2 separate regions of the Homo sapiens genome follow, and region 2 is linked to region 1. Evidence: fine-mapped expression QTL. A gene starts in region 1. The other region holds a variant in brackets. All regions are shown on one strand. Distances are between the middles of the regions.

The links.
Region 2: its variant is fine-mapped to the expression of RPP25L in whole blood (TOPMed, PIP 0.94).

What each region holds. Positions count from the first base shown.
Region 1 is chr9:34,609,147-34,614,513 of GRCh38, forward strand. It overlaps RPP25L (ribonuclease P/MRP subunit p25 like), which reads right to left and starts at 2,951. Exons shown (of 2, transcript NM_148178.3): 1 at 2,918-2,951; 2 at 1,349-2,186. The coding sequence starts at 2,150. The coding sequence ends at 1,659. DCTN3 (dynactin subunit 3) reads right to left here. Exons shown (of 7, transcript NM_007234.5): 6 at 4,896-4,955; 7 at 4,400-4,725. The coding sequence ends at 4,636. RefSeq lists enhancers at 1,869-2,422, 3,526-3,575, 3,703-3,752 and a silencer at 2,886-3,125.
Region 2 is chr9:34,516,423-34,521,789 of GRCh38, forward strand. DNAI1 (dynein axonemal intermediate chain 1) reads left to right here. Exons shown (of 20, transcript NM_012144.4): 19 at 863-1,045; 20 at 4,236-4,562. The coding sequence ends at 4,334. ENHO (energy homeostasis associated) reads right to left here. Exons shown (of 2, transcript NM_198573.3): 2 at 4,621-5,367. The coding sequence starts at 5,273. The coding sequence ends at 5,043. Among named protein-coding and RNA genes, the nearest start is that of ENHO, 3.9 kb to the right of the region's middle. RefSeq lists an enhancer at 5,312-5,367. The variant C/T (reference allele first, on the strand shown) is at 2,128.

The DNA.
Region 1 (5,367 bases):
CAAAGTGCTGGGATTACAGGCTTGAGCCACCGCGCCTGGCCTGTTTTGTCTTTTTGAGACAGAGTCTTGCTCTGTCACCCAGGCTGGAGTGCAGTGGTGCAATCCCAGCTCACTGCAACCTCTTCCTCCTGGGTTCAAGCTATTCTCCTGCCTCAGCCTCCCAAGTAACTGGGATTCCAGGCATGCACCACCACGCCCAGCTAATTTCTTGTATTTTTAGTAGAGATGGGGCTTCACCAAGTTGACCAGGCTGGTCTTGACCTCAAGTGATCCACTCGTCTTGGCCTCCCAAAGTGCTGGGACTACAGGTGTGAGCCACTGCGCCCAGCCTGTTTTCTGTTTTTGAGACAGGGTCTCACTCTGTCATCCAGGCCGAAGTACAGTAGCACAATCATGGCTCACTGCAGCCTCAACCTCCCGGGCTCAAGCGATCCTCTTGCCTCAGCCTCCCAAGTAGCTGGGACTAAAGGTGCACACCACTATGCCTAGCTAATTTTTAGATGTTTTTGTAGAGACAGGGTCTCCCTACTATGTTGCCCAGGCTGGTCTCCAACTCCTGGGATCAAGCAATCCTCCTGCCTCAGCCTCCCAAAGTGCTGGGATTACAGGCATCAGCCACTGTGCCCAACCCAAAGATATGATTCTAAGACAGGAAAAAGCATGTTTGCAAACTAGTGGAGTTGAGGATAAATGTGTATACAGACAGGTCTGGAGGTGAAGATGGAACATGAGGGAGTTCGAAAGGCCTCTGTCTCTTCAAAGCAGAGTCCAGCTCCATAGCTGAGATTGGGGCAAGGAAGCTGGAGGGAAGGAGGTGTGAGACAGTTGTTGCATTTGGGATAGGTAAGTCATTAATAACGATAATAGCAATTAACACTTAATAGCACTATGTGCCAGTGTGGTATCTAAATGTCATATATGTATATTTCCTTATGTAATCTCATAACAATCCTATGTGATAAACACTATCGTATTCCTGTTTTATGGATAAGACCACTAAGGCACAGAGCAGTAACTTGCTAATAAGTGGCAGACCAGGATTGAAACCCAGGCAGGTTGGTACCAGAGTCCATGCTCACAACCACTATACTATACTGTATGCTGCAGATGGAGAGAAATGTCTGACCTGGCAGTGTTCCTAAACCAGGCCAAAGCAGGGGCAAATAACTATCCAGGGAATTAGATATATTCAGTACTGACTGAGGCTTCTTGTAGACACTATATTCTCCCAGCACCGGCCTGAGCCTACTACTCTTCCTCTGTCTTCACCCGATCAGCCCCCCGGGGTAAGGGCGGGGACTCCCATTTCTTTAATCCCACTCCACATAGCAGGCTGAGTAGAGGCTCATCAAATAGGTAGAAACTTTATTTCCTAAATCCCTCCCTGGACCTCTTTCAGAAGGCAGTTCAAATGCACTGTAGGTAGAAGGCAGAGGAAGCCCTTATTTAGCAATGCAGAACTTGGCAGAGGCCCCACATCTGTCATTCTTCACAGCAGTCCCTTCCCACATGCTAGAGGGAAGGGGAAGCATGATAGGGAGGTCCACTTTTGTGGACTCAAACCTTGATGGGGATGTTGAGCAGTCACAACGCTTCTCAGAAAAGGCACAAGCACCCCAGACATTCAGGCCCGGAGAACAGGCTGGCTCAGCAGGTCTTCACGATCGGGTGTCTCGAGCCCTTCTTCGGGAACGAGGGCCACAGCTGGAGCTGGGCATGGAACCCAGGCCAGGGGGTGCTCCTGGGGGTTGGTAACCACACTCATTGGGGTCCAGGGGGTCCCGGCTGAGCAGCACCCACACTGCAGGCACATGGCGGCGCACTGTGAGGGGGTCTAGCCCTGTGTCAGGTGAGGCTGGGACCCAGCTGTCCTCAGTCTGAAGGAAACGTAGCTTGGTGAGCTGGTGCAGGCCTGGGACCCGCCGCTTGACAATCTCAGCGCAGCTGACAGCCTTTCCTGCAGCCCTGCCAGAACCTGAGAACACTACATGCCGAGCACTGCCGCCCTCCAACCGACCCAGAGCCAACCCCAGCAGGTTGCGAATTTTGCTGCCATCTCGGACCCGCATCTCAAGGGTATCAGGAGGTAGCTGGGGCATTGGGGAAGGCGCTGGGAGCTCTACAGAGCCAGCTTTCCGGTAGTGCTCCATCCTGCTTGCTGTCTTGTCTGTGACTCTCGCTGCCCACTGCAGGGAAGCATCAGGTAAGTGCTAAGCAATGTGCCCCAAGTCACTGTCCACCATCCCCTATCTCCATCCAGGATATGGCCCTGCTCCCCGTTCCAGACTTCCCAGAAACAGGATCATGTCCCCTTGTCCTTAGCATCTCGTGACAAGGTCCATGCCTGCCGCAGTCTGGGAAAGGGCTGTACCCCATACACCCCGTTCCTCTACAAGGGCCATAACACCCCCACCTCCAATCCTGGAGTCCAAGAGGCAGGATCACATTCCCCAAACACTGAGCTCTTTGGGAAAGTGCCAGGCCCCCTCATCCTAAACTCTCCAGGACTGGGGCTTAGCCCCCCTTATCCTGGGCTCCTTGGAACAGGGCCTGGAACCCTCACCCCAGACTAATACCAATAGAGAGCGCTCCTCACTTGGGGCTCTACAAGGACAGGGACAAGGCCCTTCGCCCCAGGCCCCCCGGGAAACAGCCAAGAACCCTTATCCAGTGCTGCCCCCAAACAGAACGGATCCCCTCTCCCAGAGATTACCAAGGTCAATCTATATCAACCCAGGTCACTCAGAAACTCGGGGGCAGAGGCTCGACTCGGAGGGCTGCTCAGGACATTCCAAGACAGCCTTGGCCGTTTCCATAGCCACGGTCTCTTCCAGGGTCTTGCCGGCCGCTGCAGCCAAGCCACAGGCGTCCCCCAACCCTACGAGCGCCCCTCTGCCCGCCCGGTTCCGGCTCTCACCGAAGCCGCCTCACGCACGATCCGGAGCCAAGATGGCGCGCGGGCCCGGAGCGCACTAAGGCCGCGGGGCCGCGCACGCCCCGAGGGGGCGGGGCGTGAGGGGCGGGGCGTGAGGGACGGGCCCCGAGGCATCTCCGCCGCGGAAACAACCCGCTGGCCAGAGCGCCCCGGACCAGTCCCAGCGGGGATGGGAACACGAGCGCAGCCTCCGCTGTTACGCCCCGGAGGGAGGCAGGACAGTTCCCTGCGGTAGAAAGGAGCGGCCGTCGGGGAAGTCCTGCGTCTGAAGGAGGGGGATCTGGCCCTTAGAAGATGGGAGGGCTGGCGTTAGCTGTTGAGCAAACGGGGAGCTGTGGGTTTCACCGTGGGTGCGAACAAAGGCTTCAGTTTGTAGTGGCTGCTGTTGCATGGGCGAGAGCCTTAGTTACCGACTTCTGAGCTTCGACCTCATCCTGTGGGCGCTGGCGGACCACGGGGGTTTTCCGGGTTTTCCAGGGGCCAGTCGAACCAGATCTTGTGCAGGGAGCCGAGGAGGGAGTGGTGGGGAAATCGGGCCACAGCCCCTGACGACACCTGCCGCGGAGTCTGGGGGCTGAGGGGGCGGGGGTGCCCACGGAGCCTAGTATGGTGCCTGGCGTATGACCGGCGCTCAATATTTGTTAAATGATTTGTTACATTAATGAACCAGAGAAATCGCGGTGGGAATGGAAAAAAGATTAAGTTGGGAGATACTAGTAGGTTCAGTGACGAGTTGGCCACTGTTTGGACGGAGAAGTAGGAAATTCCGATCTAGGGTGACTCCCAGGTTTCAGATCGGTTTGGACACGCTGAATTTGAGGTGCCGGAGAGGTCGCAAAGGCGGGGCGGCCAATGGGCCGTTGGAAAAAGGGTCTGGAGCCAGAGCACTCCCTGAGACCACAAGGGGGCAGCAAACATTTGGTGGACTACGGTGCCAATCTGTTTCTCAACATGCTTGCCCCAGCGCCCCTACTTCCCAACTTCCCCTCCCCAGGACCAAAACTTCCTGCATCCAAACCTCTTAGGCTGCCCTTCTCGGCTCGTGGCAGCAGGTAGGCTCCCAAGAGAGAAATTTAAAGGCCTTTGCACATGCTGCTCCCTTGGCTCTGAAAGTCCCTGGATATCACTTACCAGGTCCCTTCAGTCCCTTTTTTCTTCTGTGTCCACCTGATAGGACTGCCCTTTTCCTTTACTGTCTATCCTGCTAGCCCGTGCAGGGCAGGGATTAGCCCTATCTACTCCCATCATCTGACATTTGGAGGTCTCTTATTGGTAAATGTGGGATAAATGGATACATAAAGGAATATCCTATTCACATAATCAAATGAGAGCCTTCATTTTGAGAGCTCTACACCTGCCAGAAAGCCAGACCAGGATGAGTTTAGTTCCCAGTCAAACGATTAGGCAGGCTGACACCTCTGCCCCCTACCACCTCCATCCTAGACCAAGAAGCCAGCACACTCCTCCAGTCATCTCTATGGTTTATTGTCACTGAAATAAGAACACTGATTGGGGGGAGGGTGGGTGTTGCAAATTGCAAACCTCAGGTAACCTGACCTCCAACTTTAGAGCCCAGAGTACAGAGAGGTGGGCCTTGAAGCCAATAAATACAAAGCTTCCTCTGCCTTGTAACAAAGGCAGGTTGGCATAGGGCCCTGGAGCCTGACTGCCCAGGCCCACTTTGGGATGGGGAGCAGCTATCACTCCTCTGCTGGCTTCACTTGCGTGGCGGCCTCTAGCTGGCAAAGTAGCTCATCCCACTGCACGAATTGCTTGGAGAGAAGCATTGTCTGGTTGTAGGTCAAGGTGAGAATAGGAATCTGAGTGAGGAAGTTCATGGAAAGTGGGGAACAGGCAAACATAGGTGGGTAGGATAGGATGAGAGAGAGCTAGAGGTGGAACAAAAGGACAGGGCTTAGGGACAGCACCCATTAGGGTCCTAGTTGAGCAGAAAGGATACAGTCTTGTTGTATTCCTCCAGGAGAGCCTTGGACTCCTCAGTGATTTCCACACACTGGTCCTGTAGGGCCAAAGTGTAGCACAGAAAGGAACTGGGCAAAGCCCACATCTTCCACTAAACTTCCTGCCTCATCACGGACTCCCACTCCCCATGGAGCCTAAAAAAGATGACGCTTAACCCCAAAGCCAAAGGAGCAAATGGCTATGGGAGCACTTTCAGGCTCCAGGATGGGTGCCCTAACAGCAGTCCAAAGACGGATGGAAAAGGGAGTGGCCATACATTAAGTAAACATTCCCCCTAGTGTATGTCTCTTCTTCTGTCCTTATTTCTGAACTCTCTTTGAACTTTACACTAGGGCCTGGGAATAGTGAAAAAAGAGCCCCTCTACCCACAGTCAATGACATACCATCCCCAGGAATTCTTGGGTACCTCCCAGCCTCAACCTTATGGTGTCCCAATAAAGTCCTGCTCT
Region 2 (5,367 bases), 93 kb before region 1:
GTCCAGGTGAGAGTTGGTAGTGGTTTGGTCTGAGGGTGTGGTGAAGGTAGCATCCAACATGGAATGAGCACTGGTATGTCAAGCACTGTCCTTGCACTTTACATATATTAACTGGTGTAAGCCCTGGCTCTGCCACTTACTAGCAGGTTAGCCTCTAAGAGCCTCTAACTCCTCCGTTATAAAATAAAGATAATGACAGAACCACCTTACAGAGTGGTTGTGAAGAGCATAATGAGGTGATGCAACCGTATGATGTGCTTGCCCAGAGTCTAGTACATAGTGAGTGCTCAACAAATGGTAGCTGCTATTTTCTTTTCTTTTCTTTTTTTTTTTTTTTGAGACAAGATCTCACTCTTGCCCAGGCTGGAGTACAGTGGCTCCATCTTGGCTCACTGTAACCTCCGCCTCCCAGGTTCAAGTGATTCTCCCATCTCAGCCTCCCTAGTAGCTGGGACTACAGGCATGCACCACCACGCCCATCTAATTTTTTGTATTTTTGGTAGAGACAGGGTTTCACCATGTTGGCCAGCCTGGTCTCAAACTCCTGACCTCAAGTGATTCACCCACCTTGGCCTCCCAAAGTGCTGGGATTACAGGCGTCAGTGAGCCACCACGCCCAGCCTATAGCTGCTATTATTAATTCTCCATAGATTTAAAATTTCTCCTAAACTTTTTAATTCTCACTCTTTCAACCATAGGAAAAACACAGAGACACAAAATTCCCCCTCCCTCCACCTCCAGCTCCAGTGTGCTAGCCATTAGCCTTCTACAGTCTTTCCCCAGGAAGTCCAGGGACTCATTCCTCTGAGGTGGAAGACAGGCCTCATTACCCCTGAGTGTGCTGACACCGACCTCTCCACAGGCCCACATATTTGACTTAGCCATCAACAAGTATGAGGCCATCTGCAACCAGCCTGTGGCGGCCAAAAAGAACAGGCTCACCCACGTGCAGTTCAATCTCATCCACCCCATCATCATTGTGGGCGATGACCGTGGGCACATCATCAGCCTCAAGCTCTCACCCAATTTGCGCAAGATGCCAAAGGTACAGGCTCTGGGACTTTGAGCTGCTGCAAGACGTAAAGTCTCCAGGAGGGTGGGGATGACAGAAGGGAGAAGCCAGGGTGACCACCCAGTTTCTGATGTGGGAGACCCAGGGTAAGGATGGTGTCATTGCCTGAATGAGGCTCACAGTAGAAGCAGGTTTGTGAGAAAACAGCAGTTTGACATGCTGCATTTGAGTTACCTGTGGGGCCCCAGGTGACTTTCCCAGGTGGAGACATCCAATGAGCAGGTGGATCTGAAGCCTGCAGAGGCAAATGTGGAGGTATCATTGATTTCTTCCCAGTGGAAATGCTGTGGGTAGGACAGGTCACCCAGGCAGGGGGCCTGGGGCTGAGCCACTGCCTCATTGACTGGGCTTTCACAGGGCTTCAGCCCCAGTGGTCCCTGAGCTGGGAGCTGTGGGTCTACACAGAGAGGAAGGAAATGAGCCGCAAGGAGAGTAACTAGGTCAGCAGCTATGCAGCCCTCCTTCTGAGCTCTGGTTCCTGTTTCTAGGGTCTCCAATGATCAGGAGACCCTGCCCAGAGGCCAAGGGCCCCAAATACAGGTCTGGAGCCCAGAGCGATGACCTTAAAGTCTAGATCTGAGTCCAGATCCAGACTTATGAACCCAGGCTTTGCAGCCCGGGCCTTGGAATCCTGAGCCCAAGAACCCAGAGCCCAGTCCTGCCCATTTGTGTGCTAAGAGTAGAGATGGCTCTTTGCTTTCTGCCAGGTTCTGGGCCAGGATCAGGACTGGGCCAGCTTGCCCTAATGACCATCCCTCCTGGCAATTTGAGGCATTTACTGCAGTTTGAGGCAGTGGCAGGGGCCTGTGTCTTTCGACTACTGTCTTCCCTGCACTGTGCTCCTACCAAGGAAGGGACTGCGGCACCATCCCTCTGGTGCTGGCTTGGCCTGTTCCCCACCATGGCCAGGGAGGCAAGGGCTGGGAGTGTGGCTGGCCCTGTAATTGTAGCCAGCTGGGGGAGAGGGTGGACTTGGCTATAAATACTCAAAAGGCTGCTAAGCGCCTGCAGCTGTGGCCCAGAGGCTGTGGTGGGCTTGAGGGGAGGGAGGGAGT[C/T]GGGCGTGGTCTGAATCTCTTTGCTGAGCCCAGCTAGTTGGCCTCAAGGAGGAGGAAGGAGGAAGCATAATTTGTGGAATAGATAAAATGTGTTCTTAATTTTCTGAGGAGAGAGACCCAGGTTGAAGCTGGCAGAGTTGGACAACCCTCCAGGAGGGATGATGGTCATTCTTTGGGGGAGGAGTACAGCCATGACACCATGAGGGTGGTAGACATGGGTGGGAGCCTGCCCTGCCCACTCTGATCCAGGGAGGTAAGCATCTCCCATAGTTTCAGTTCCCCTCAGAGAAGGGTCAGACATGGGTGGGAGCCTGCCCTGCCCACTCTGATCCAGGGAGGTAAGCATCTCCCATAGTTTCAGTTCCCCTCAGAGAAGGGTCAGACATGGGTGGGAGCCTGCCCTGCCCACTCTGATCCAGGGAGGTAAGCATCTCCCATAGTTTCAGTTCCCCTCAGAGAAGGGTCAGTCATGGCTGGGAGAGCTGGGCTGTGTGTATCTGGGGACCTACGTCTCTGAGGACCTGAGAAGGGACAGGTGGGGGCTGGTGGGTACTTGAGTGGATTAGAGGTTCCCGTGAAATTGCCATCTGACCCTATCAGCCAAGTGATTCATGCAAAACAAAATCCTCTGGGCATCCCTACTGCCCTTCCTCTGTGAGCTGCAGACTCCCTGCCCTTTCCAAATGGCTTCCCCACAGAGGTCTGGACCTCCCTGCCCAGGGAGCTCCCATGATGGGTGTCAAGAGCCCAAAGAGTCCAAGGCCAAAGACTGTCTTTCCCTAACTACAGGATAGATGGGAAACTGAAGCTCAGAAAGGCAAAGGCCTTGCCCAAAGTCATATAGGGAGTTAATGACAGAGCTGGAACTAAAACCAGGTCCCCTAACTCCCAGGGGATGGGGTGAAGCCAAGAAGAGAACCCAAGCTTAATTTAGGAAGGAGAGAGGGAAGAGAGAGAAAAAGAGCTTTTTTGTGCTCTGCCTGCAGAGGGTAGAGGTGAGCTAGGTAGTGGCAAAAAGGCACTGGGCTGCAAGCGGATAGGGGAGAAAATTTGGGAGCAGGTATGGGGTCACAGCAGGGGGAAATCTGAGCTCCACATGGTGACAGCAGCCAAAAAGGAGCCAGGGAAGGGCCTACTGGCCCTGCACTCACCCCTCCCCATCCCCTTTACAGCCCTGGCCAGACCAAGGTAAGGCTGGGGTAGGTGTCAGTGAGCAGTGGGCACAGGTGGCTGAGAGGATGGGGGCCCAGGAGCACAGCGAAGGCAGGAAATGGGGAAATGGCAACTGCCCAGCCTGCCCCAGCACAGCCCTCACCCCCCTGCCTGGACAGCAGGGAGGGTGGGACTGGTGCTGGTCTGCCAAGGAGTTCTCAGGACCTGTGGGTGACACACACTCCAGTGTCCAACTTATAATGGAAGGATTGGAGTGCTTTGCAGGTAGGGTGTTGGGTCATAAACTCAGGATCTGGTCTTCTAAAGGACAACCTCAGCCAACGACACCTGGAGTCACATGGACTATTCCCTCTGCCCTTATGGGTCTCTTGACACTCTTCCCAACCCTGGGTATGTCTGACACAGCAGGTCTCGCCCCAAATAGCACCCACTGCCAACCTGACCTGAAGGCATCAGGTGAGAGGACTAGGTGAGGTCCGGGCCCCTGAGGCTCTGTCCACAGCCCCTCCCTCCCCAAACACATACCCATTAGCTCCTTGATAGGTCTCGGCCAGGGACCTTCCCATGGTAAGGATGGTGCCAGCAGTCAGCCCCCCGCCTTCGCAGAGCTGGATTTCCCTGGCCTGGAAGGTTGTTCCCCTGAGGGTCAGGGAATGGATGCCTTTTCCCACTCCCACAAGCATCAAGACCCCATGTCCATCTGAGGTTCAAGCCAGAGCTGGACTCCTTTTTGCAAGCTGTCAGCTGAGCCCCTGTGTCACCTAACCCGAGTTGGGGAATGATCGTGTCAGGGAGAGGGGAGGCAGGGATCCAGAATTTACTGGGCAGGGGAGGGGTAGGGCACAGCTGGACAGGCTGGGCAGAGGAGGTGGTGCTGGGACCCAGAGAGGGGGGGCCCACCATTCCTCCCTCATGTATACTTTCCCTCTCCCCAGGAAAAGAAGGGGCAGGAGGTGCAGAAGGGTCCAGCTGTGGAGATTGCGAAACTGGACAAACTGCTGAACCTGGTGAGGGAAGTGAAAATCAAGACCTGAGGGGCTGGCCTCAGTCTCTGTCCCATCGCTTGAATACAGTACTCCTAGGGCTTGACCCTGGTACCCAGCCCAGCCTTAGCACCCAGCATGTGACCCCACTCCTGATCAGGTCCCAGCATCTTCCCTTCTTGTTCTGTTCCTTAAGGTCCCAGCACCTTACCCCAGGACTTGGTCTTCAACCACCATTACCCCTCTAACTTTGCACAAATAAACCTGTGTAGAAACCCACCCCACACCTTTAATTGTGCTACCACAGGGCCCTCAGGAAGAGAAGAAAACCTCAGGGTAGAGCCATAGTTCCATTTATTATCCAGCAAACACTGGGAGGACCAGGGGAGGGGCCCAGCCTGGACACCCTCCTATTATTGCCATGGGTTCCAGTTTGCTTCCCCAGCCTAGAGGGCCTAGAGGTGCTCAGCCTAGGGAAAGAGTGGACCCGGCCCCTGACCCTTGGCCCTTGGGATGGAGCATAGTCCAGATGGCCCTGGCTCTAGCACCAACTCATAAGCCCCCACCCCAGGCCCATCTCCTTAGGGCCACTGAGCTCCTATTGGAGCCAAGCTGGCTAGACTCTGGGCCGCTGGGTCCAGCTCCAAGCAGGCGGACTCTTGAGTTCTGGACCCCAGGCTGGCTGAACTCTGGGATCCTAATTCCAGGCTCTAGGTGAGGTGGACTTAGGTCCTGGGCTCCAGGCTAGGCCAGGGGCCTTCAGGGCTGCAGCAGGTAGCTGCCTTCATGGCTGGGCTTCTGGGGTGGTGGGGCCTTCTCAGGACAGGGGCCAGGGCTGGAGTTGGGACTGGATTCAGAGAGAGAGTCAACGTCGGCAGAGCGAGAATGGCAGGCCCAGCAGAGGATGACCCAGAGCAGCAGCAGCAAGAAGCCCACGAGACCGTTGCAGACGATGGCGATGAGGGCCCCCTGGGAGATGGCTGCCCCCATGACAGGCAGCACCCTCAGACCAGCACAGACAGTGGAGCTGCCTCAATGGTGAGGCCCATGCCGAGGCAGGACTCTGGTATGGCCGGCCTTCAGA